2 linked regions of the Homo sapiens genome follow. The protein of the gene in region 2 interacts with the protein of the main gene of each other region in a pairwise test. Each region holds a gene or a part of one and is shown on either strand. Other genes may lie near its edges. The genes, in order: INTS1 and DEAF1.

Evidence for each region.
Region 1: the proteins of DEAF1 (region 2) and INTS1 interact in a two-hybrid assay, tested with the Homo sapiens proteins (one large-scale study listed by IntAct).

The regions. Positions count from the first base shown.
Region 1 is NC_000007.14:1,483,814-1,487,617, forward strand, and holds part of INTS1 (integrator complex subunit 1), read right to left. Parts: intron 3,637-3,804; coding exon 3,507-3,636; intron 3,289-3,506; coding exon 3,109-3,288; intron 2,962-3,108; coding exon 2,812-2,961; intron 1,657-2,811; coding exon 1,477-1,656; intron 1,390-1,476; coding exon 1,285-1,389; intron 358-1,284; coding exon 190-357; intron 41-189; coding exon 1-40. UniProt on the Homo sapiens protein: Component of the integrator complex, a multiprotein complex that terminates RNA polymerase II (Pol II) transcription in the promoter-proximal region of genes.
Region 2 is NC_000011.10:674,489-678,292, forward strand, and holds part of DEAF1 (deformed epidermal autoregulatory factor 1 homolog), read right to left. Parts: intron 296-3,804; coding exon 48-295; intron 1-47. UniProt on the Homo sapiens protein: Transcription factor that binds to sequence with multiple copies of 5'-TTC[CG]G-3' present in its own promoter and that of the HNRPA2B1 gene. Down-regulates transcription of these genes.

The sequences.
Region 1 (3,804 bases), on a different chromosome or scaffold from region 2:
CGCTGCTCCAGCGTAGGAAGACCTGGTCCTGAGACTCCGACTGTGGGAAAAGAGGTGGAGTCAGGCCGTAAGGTTCAGGGACCCTGAGCCAGCGCCGAGGGTACCCAGCTGGCACCGAGCGTGCCGTGCAGCCTCACCCAGCCGTAGACCTCCTCGCCCTCACCCGGCCGTAGACCTCCTCGCCCTCACCCAGCTGTAGACCTCCTCGCCCTCCTTGCTCTGCCGCATGCGCCTCACGTAGCGTGAGAAGATGGACAACAGAGCGCTCAGCACGGCGTCCGACGCGGCACTCGGGGAGAGCTTCGAGAAGAGGTGGGACATGATGGTGGAGCGCTCCACGACCAGCCGGGCCACGTCCTGGTGTGTGGACAGGGGGGCGTCAGAGGCTCCGAGACAGCTCTGCTCTCCGGCCAGCTGGGGTGACCTCGTCGCAGGCACGCTCTCACTGGGATCTTAAGCAGGGCCCGCGGCACCGCAGACCCTCACTCAGCCGCAGGCCGCCAGGGAAGACGACCAGAGCTGGGTCGGACTCTCCAGGGGGGAGGGAGGACACGACTCTCACAGCCAGGGACAATGACCAGGCCCTGAAAGCGGACGCTGCTGCCCTCTGCCCGGCAGCCACCATCTGTTCACCTATCGCTCATTCCCTGAGGACTCGGGCCACCAACTTTCACTAGGTCACAGCGCAGGTTGTGGACAAGAGAACCGTGATGCAAAGTGAGAAGCAGCCCAGCAGAGAAGGACAGCACCCAGGAGAGAAGATGGGAGTCAGCGCCACACATGTGAGCTAGAGATGCTGAGGACAGCGGGCAGGTGCCCAGCGACCTGGGCCCACAGCCCAAACCCTCCTGGCGTCGGGGAGAAGGCTGATGGCTCAGATTCCACCCTGCTGTGAACAAGGCACCCTCACCCCCGTGGCTTCGCATCCTCAGGGTCTGGGGAGAAAGGCTCCAGGGAGTGAGTGGTGACTAAGGAAGGGACACAGGTGGCCACGGGGTCATAGAAGCCCCAGCACAGCAGCCGTGACGGCCCTCCCACCCTCAATGCCTCCCTGTGGCCCAAGAAGCCGCCAGCCCAGGGCACTGCACCACTGGCCCCTTACCCTCCCCAGGGCAGGGTCTCTGTGCTGACCCCGTCCCCTCCCCAGGGCCACACTGCCGGCTGGCCCCGTCCCCTCCCCAGGGCCACACTGCCGGCTGGCCCCGTCCCCTCCCCAGGGCCACACTGCCGGCTGGCCCCGTCCCCTCCCCAGGGCCACACTGCTGGCTGACCCTGCTGCCTCACCAGGGCCAGGTCGCTGTGCTGGGCCTGCTCCTCCACAGGCGTGTGCTGGGACAAGTAGATCAGGTAGGCGCTGATGGTCTGGGGATCAGTCTCCATGTGGATTGCCTGGAGGGGAGGGTGGTCTGAGCGGCAACAGGGCAGGGCTGCGGCCCTCTCATCTTTCCCTGCCGCGGCCCCGGTCAGCGCCCTCACCTGCTGCAGGGCCAGGGCTGTGGTGCTCCTGACGCTGTCGAACAGAGGCAGGCGAGGCAGGTCCCGCAGCAGCCACTGATAGCCCTGCAGCACATCTGTGTCCCCCACATCCTCCTCCATGGGGGGCTCCTTCTCCTCCCCGTCCCGCAGGCTGCCCTCCGAAAGCACCAGCGACAAACCCTGTGGCAGACACTCATGAGCTGGGCCGGCTTTCGGCAGTGCAGGCAGGGTCTCACCCTGGCCCCGGGAGCACACGCATGGTGCCCTCAGAGCCCCGAGGAGAATGTGGCGCTTGCTTCCCACGGGAGAGGCCGCAGGTAAAAGGGAAAAACGAGACTGAGCTCTTTCTGTTAAATGCTTCTGTTCAAGTTCCTGAAGCCACTCTGGACCCTCCCGTCACCAGCAAGAAAGGAACACCAGGCAGGCGGCAGGGTCCACCTTCACGTTTCACTAGCGCATCCTTCCTACGCAGGGAAGGAACTTAAAATACAGTCAGAGTGCACTGAACACTCATTTGATTTTTACTTTTCCTTTTTAAGACAGGGTCTCATTCTGTTGCCTAGGCTGGAGTGCAGTGGTGTGATCACAGCTCACTACAGCCTCAAGTGATTCTCCCATCTCAGCCTCCCAAGTGGCTTGGACCACAGGTGCATGCTGCCACACCCAGCTCATTTTTCTCATCTTTTATTTTTTGTAGAGATGGGTATCATTATGTTGCCCAGGCTGGTCTCAAACTCCTGGGCTCAAGTGATCCTCCTGCCTCAGCTTCCCAAGTAGCTGGGAACACAGGCACACACTACCACACCTGGCTAATTTTTTCAGTTTTTGTAGAGAGAGGATCTTCCTGTGTTGCCCAGGCTGGTCTCAAACTCCTGGACTCAAGTGATGCTCCCACCTCGGCCTCCCAAAGTGCTGGGATGACAAGAGCAAGCCACTGCCCCAGGCCTACTCATTTTACTTCTTTATTTTTCATTTATTTATTTTTTTTTTTTTGAGATGGAGTTTCACTTGTTGCCCAGGCTGGAGTACAGTGGCACAATCTTGGCTCACCTCAACCTCCGCCTCCTAGGTACAAGCGAGTCTCCTGCCTCAGCCTCCAGAGTACCTGGGATTACAGGCCCCCTCCACCACGCCCAGCTAATTTTTTCTATTTTTAATAGAGACGGGATTTCACCATGTTGGCCAGGCTGGTCTCCAACTCCTGACCTCAGGTAATCTGCCTGCCTTGGCCTCCCAAAGTGCTGGGATGACAGGCGTGAGCCACCGTGCCCGGTCCCCAGCCTACTCATTTTAAACATGAAGAGCGTGCGCAGAAAGACCCGCCCACCACCTCACCTTCATGGCCAGCACGCGGGAGGCCACCTGGGAGGAGCCGAGGCGCCGCAAGAAGTAGTCCAGCACCTCACACGTGGTCTGCTCATCAGCCTTCGGGCCCAGTAGCAGGTCCTGCAGGCGGCCCAGCAGCTGCCGCTGCTTCTGTTGCCTCTGCAGGGAGGAAGGGGCTCTCAGGGGTGCAGGTGACAGGCCAGGCGGGTAGGACGTGGGGTGCGCGGCTGGTGGGCTCAGGCATGGGTTGCCCTGACAGGGGTGCGGGGTGAGAGGCGGGGGGGCTGAGGGGTGGGCGGCCCTGACCTGCCGCTTCTTGGCCTTCTGCTCCTTGCTCTCGCCCTCGTCGTCCTCCTCCCCGGAAGCAGCATCGTCCACAGCATCGTGCAGCAGGAACTCGCACAGACACTGCACGGGCAGCACGTCCAGGGAGCCCTCGCTGGACTGTACCAGGTCCGCCAGCCAGGGCATGGACTGCGAGGAGGCCTGGGCAGGCGACAGTGGCGCCCGCTCAGCACCTTCCAGGCCCAACACCTGCCGCCAGCCCCCCGGGTGACCGCGGAGCCGGAAAGGGCGACACGCAGCAGCCAGCTCATGGGCCCCGCATCCAGGTGTGTCCTGCCCTCTTCTGGCCACCAAGGCCTCCGGAAGGTTCCGGGCCTCCCAAGACCACCATCTCTACCTCCTGGAGCCTCGGCACTCACCTGCCGCTGGATGATGTGGAGGAGAAAGTCAGGGTTTCGGCTGCGGCACAAGAGGTGCCCGAGGCGGAGGGACTGGTTGAGGCTTTTCACTTGATCCAGGATGTGAGGGGGAGGCCTCCGGGGGGGCCCCCTGAGGGCCACAGGGGACACGGTGCGTCAGCACGCCCTGAGCGGATCACCCCCAGAACCCCTCCTCCTCCCATCCCTGCTTCGAGGGGCAGCCGACAGCCCGAGACGGGCAACCCATCCTGACCTGGGATGTCCCCAAGGCCTGGCCCCACAGCAGTAAGCCAGGGAC
Region 2 (3,804 bases):
GGGGTTACTCGGCACAGGTCGTGTCTTCCCATTTGTTCCAAGGTTACCTCCTTCCGCTCTGCGTCAGCGTGGATCTTGGCCTGGTTTGTGGCAGCTTCTCGGTAGGTGCTGGCATGCTTGGCTTGCTCAAACAGCGTCTTCAGCTGCTGCGCTGTGTTGAGCAAGGAGTTGACCATCTCTTCTAGGTACAGCCAGCTCCGCGGCTCTGACAGCTCCAGCCCATTGACCAACGCGGGAGGTGCCGCTTTGGTGGGAGTCGGGGGTGGGACCGCCAGCGCAGGCAGGGATGTCAACACTAGAGCATTTGGAAAGCAAAACAAACCAAGAAATTAATACATCTCCTAGCTTCAAAATGGCCTCCGTTAAAAATTCTCAGCCGGGCGCGGTGGCTCACGCCTGTAATCCCAGCACTTTGGGAGGCCAAGGCAGGCGGATCATGAGGTCAGGAGATCGAGACCATCCTGGCTAACAGTGAAACCCCGCGTTTCACTGTGTTTAAAAAAATACAAAAAAATACAAAAAATTGGCTAAAAAAAATACAAAAAATTAGCTGGACGTGGTGGTAGACGCCTGTAGTCCCAGCTACCTCGGGAGGCTGAGGCAGGAGAAAGGTGTGAAGCCGGGAGGCAGAGCTTGCAGTGAACAGAGATGGCACCACTGCACTCCAGCCTGGGCAACAGAGTGAGACTCCATCTCAAAAAAATAAACAAATAAAATTTAAAAATAAAAAATAAATAAAAATTCTCATCACCCGGTGCAGTGGCTCATGCCTGTAATCCCTGCACTTTGGGAGACTGAGGTGGGAGGATCACTTGAGCTCAGGAGTTCAAGACCAGCCTGGGCAACATAGCAGGACCTTGCCTCTACAAAACAGAAATCAAAAACAAAGAACTAGATGGGCATGGTGACATTCACCTGTGATCCCAGCTACTCAGGAAGCTGAGGCGGGAGGATGGTTTGAGCCCAGGTGGTCGAGGCTACAGTGAGCCATGACTGCGCCACCGTCCTTCGGCCTTGGTGACTTAATGAGACCCTGTCTCAAAAAGAAAAGAGGCCAGGCACAGTGGCTCACACCTGTAATCCCAGCACTTTGGGAGGCCGAGGCGGGCAGATCCCTTGAGGTCAGGAGTTCGAGGCTAGCCTGGTCAACATGGTGAAACCCCATTTCTACCAAAAAATACAAAAATTAGCTAGGCGTGGAAGCGTCTATAATCCCAGCTACCTGGGAGGCTGAGGCATGAGAATCATTTGAACCTGGGAGGCAGAAGTTGTGGTGAGCCGAGATGGTGCCAGTGGACTCAAGCCTGGGTGACAGAGTGAGACTCCATCTCAAAAAAGAAAAGAAAAGAAAACTCTCACGCAATGTTGGGAAGTCGGGTAAAAAACTGACCAGCAAACAACAAATCACTGCCTGACATCCCCCCAGCACCTGACACCCCCCAGCACCTGACATCCCCCAGCACGCAGCCTGACATCCCCCGGCACCCGACATCCCCCGGGGCACCTGGCACCCCCCGGCACCCGACACCCCCCAGCACCCGACACCCCCCAGCACCCGACAACCCCCAGCATCCGACACCCCCCAGCACCCGACATCCCCCCCAGCACCTGACACCCCCCAGCATCTGACATCCCCCAGCACCCGACACCCCCAGCACCTGACATCCCCCCAGCATCTGACATCCCCAAGCACCTGACATCCCCCAGCACTCAGCCTGACATCCCCCAGCACCCGATACCCCCAGCACCTGACATCCCCCCAGCACCTGACATCCCCCAGCACGCAGCCTGACATCCCCCCAGCACCCGACACCCCCAGCACCCGACATCCCCCCAGCACCCGACATCCCCCCAGCACCTGACATCCCCGAGCACTCAGCCTGACATCCCCCCAGCAGGCAACACAGGCAGGAGGATGTCCCATCCCTTCCTGCTCCACCCACCCAGCTCCATGTTGTACAACTCATCTGAATGCGGCTGCTGGACCCTGAAATGTTCGCAGAATCAGCGCCGTGGACAATGACCAGGGGAGGGAAGTGGCTAAATCAGAGTCTCGCTGTGTCGCCCAGGCTGGAGGGCGGTGGCATCATCTTGGCTCACTGCCCTCCCGGGTTCAAGTGATTCGCCTGCCTCAGCCTCCCGAGTAGCTGGGATTACAGGCATCTGCCACCAGGCCTGGCTAATTTTGTATTTTTAGTAGAGATGGGGTTTCTCCACGTTGGTCAGGCTGGTCTCGGACTCCTGACCTCAGGTGATCCACCCGCCTCGGCCTCCCAAAGCGCTGGGATTACCGGCGTGAGCCACCACGCCCAGCGGGGTTTCTTACAATTGGAGAAGAAAGTTACAAAGGAACTAGCACAAACCCTGAGGTTCTGCACTGGAACTAGAGACACTGGGGCAAACTCATGGTTTTCAACACACACAGATTTGGAGCACAAACACGCACACGTGCACATGAGAACATTTCTGACTTCTGCCCACCAAGGGCACCTGGGGACAGAGATCCAGGAGCCACATGCACACCTTGTACCAGGGGCAAGCGGTCGATGCGAACCCCAGCCCTCCTGGAGAAAAAGCTCTGATTTCAAGCATTTGCTGATTTCTTGGTATAAATACTTCACCAACACCCACCCCACACTTTTTTTTTTTTTCCAGTTAATAGAGATGGGGTCTCCTTATGTTGCCCAGGCCGGTCTCAAACTCCTGGCCTCGGCCTCCTAAAGTGCTGGGATTAAACAGGTAAGCCACACGCCTGTAATCCAAGCACTTTGGGAGGCCAAAGCAGGCAGATCACAAGGTCAAGAGATCAAGACCATCCTGGCCAACACGGTGAAACCCCATCTCTACTAAAAATACAAAAATTAGCCGGGCATGGTGGCGCGTGCCTGAAGTCTACACTCCAGCCTGGGCAACAGATCAAGACTCCATCTCAAAAAAAAAACAAAAAAAGGATGAGCCACCACGCCCAGCCCTGAGGTAAGCTTTAAAGATGGAAAGAGTTTAGATAGGCAAAAGAGAGAATAATGAAACAAGCAAATGAAAATGAAAAGGTAAGTTTTTCATGAACAAGTTTCTTGCGCTGTCTGTGACAGTGAAAAATGGAAAACATGCATTTGCCACCAGCAGGGGAGGGTTCAATCAATCATGTATTGATCATATGCACCCTTTAAAAAAGTATAATGATGGCTGGGCACGATGGCTCACGCCTGTAATCCCAGCACTTTGGGAGGCCAAGGCAGGTGGATCATGAGGTCAGGAGTTTGAGACCAGCCTGACCAGCATGGTGAAACCCCATCTCTACTAAAAATACAATAACAAAAAAAAATTAGCTGGGCATGGTGGCGTGCACCTGTAGTCCCAGCTACTCAGGAGGCTGAGGCAGGAGAATTGCTTAAACCTGGCAGGCAGAGGTTGCAGTGAGCCGAGATCGCACCACTGCACTCCAGCCTGGGCGACAGAGTGACACTCTGTCTCAAAAAAAAAAACAAAAAACGTATAATTATACAGAAATCTTGGCTGCATGTGGTGGCTCACACCTGTAATCCCAGCACTTTGGGAGGCTGAGGCGGATGGATCACTTGAGGTCAGGAGTTCGAGATCTGTAATCCCAGCTACCTGGGAGGCTGAGGCAGGAGAATCACTTGAACCAGGCAGAGGTTGCAGTGAGCCAAGATTGCGCCACTGCACCCCAGCCTGGGCAATAGAGCGAGACTCAGTCTCAAAAAAATAGAAGTGCAGTTAAACGAAAAATCAAAGTTAGAATGCATTTACAGTGTATCGTCATTTTAAAGATTTAGGCCACAT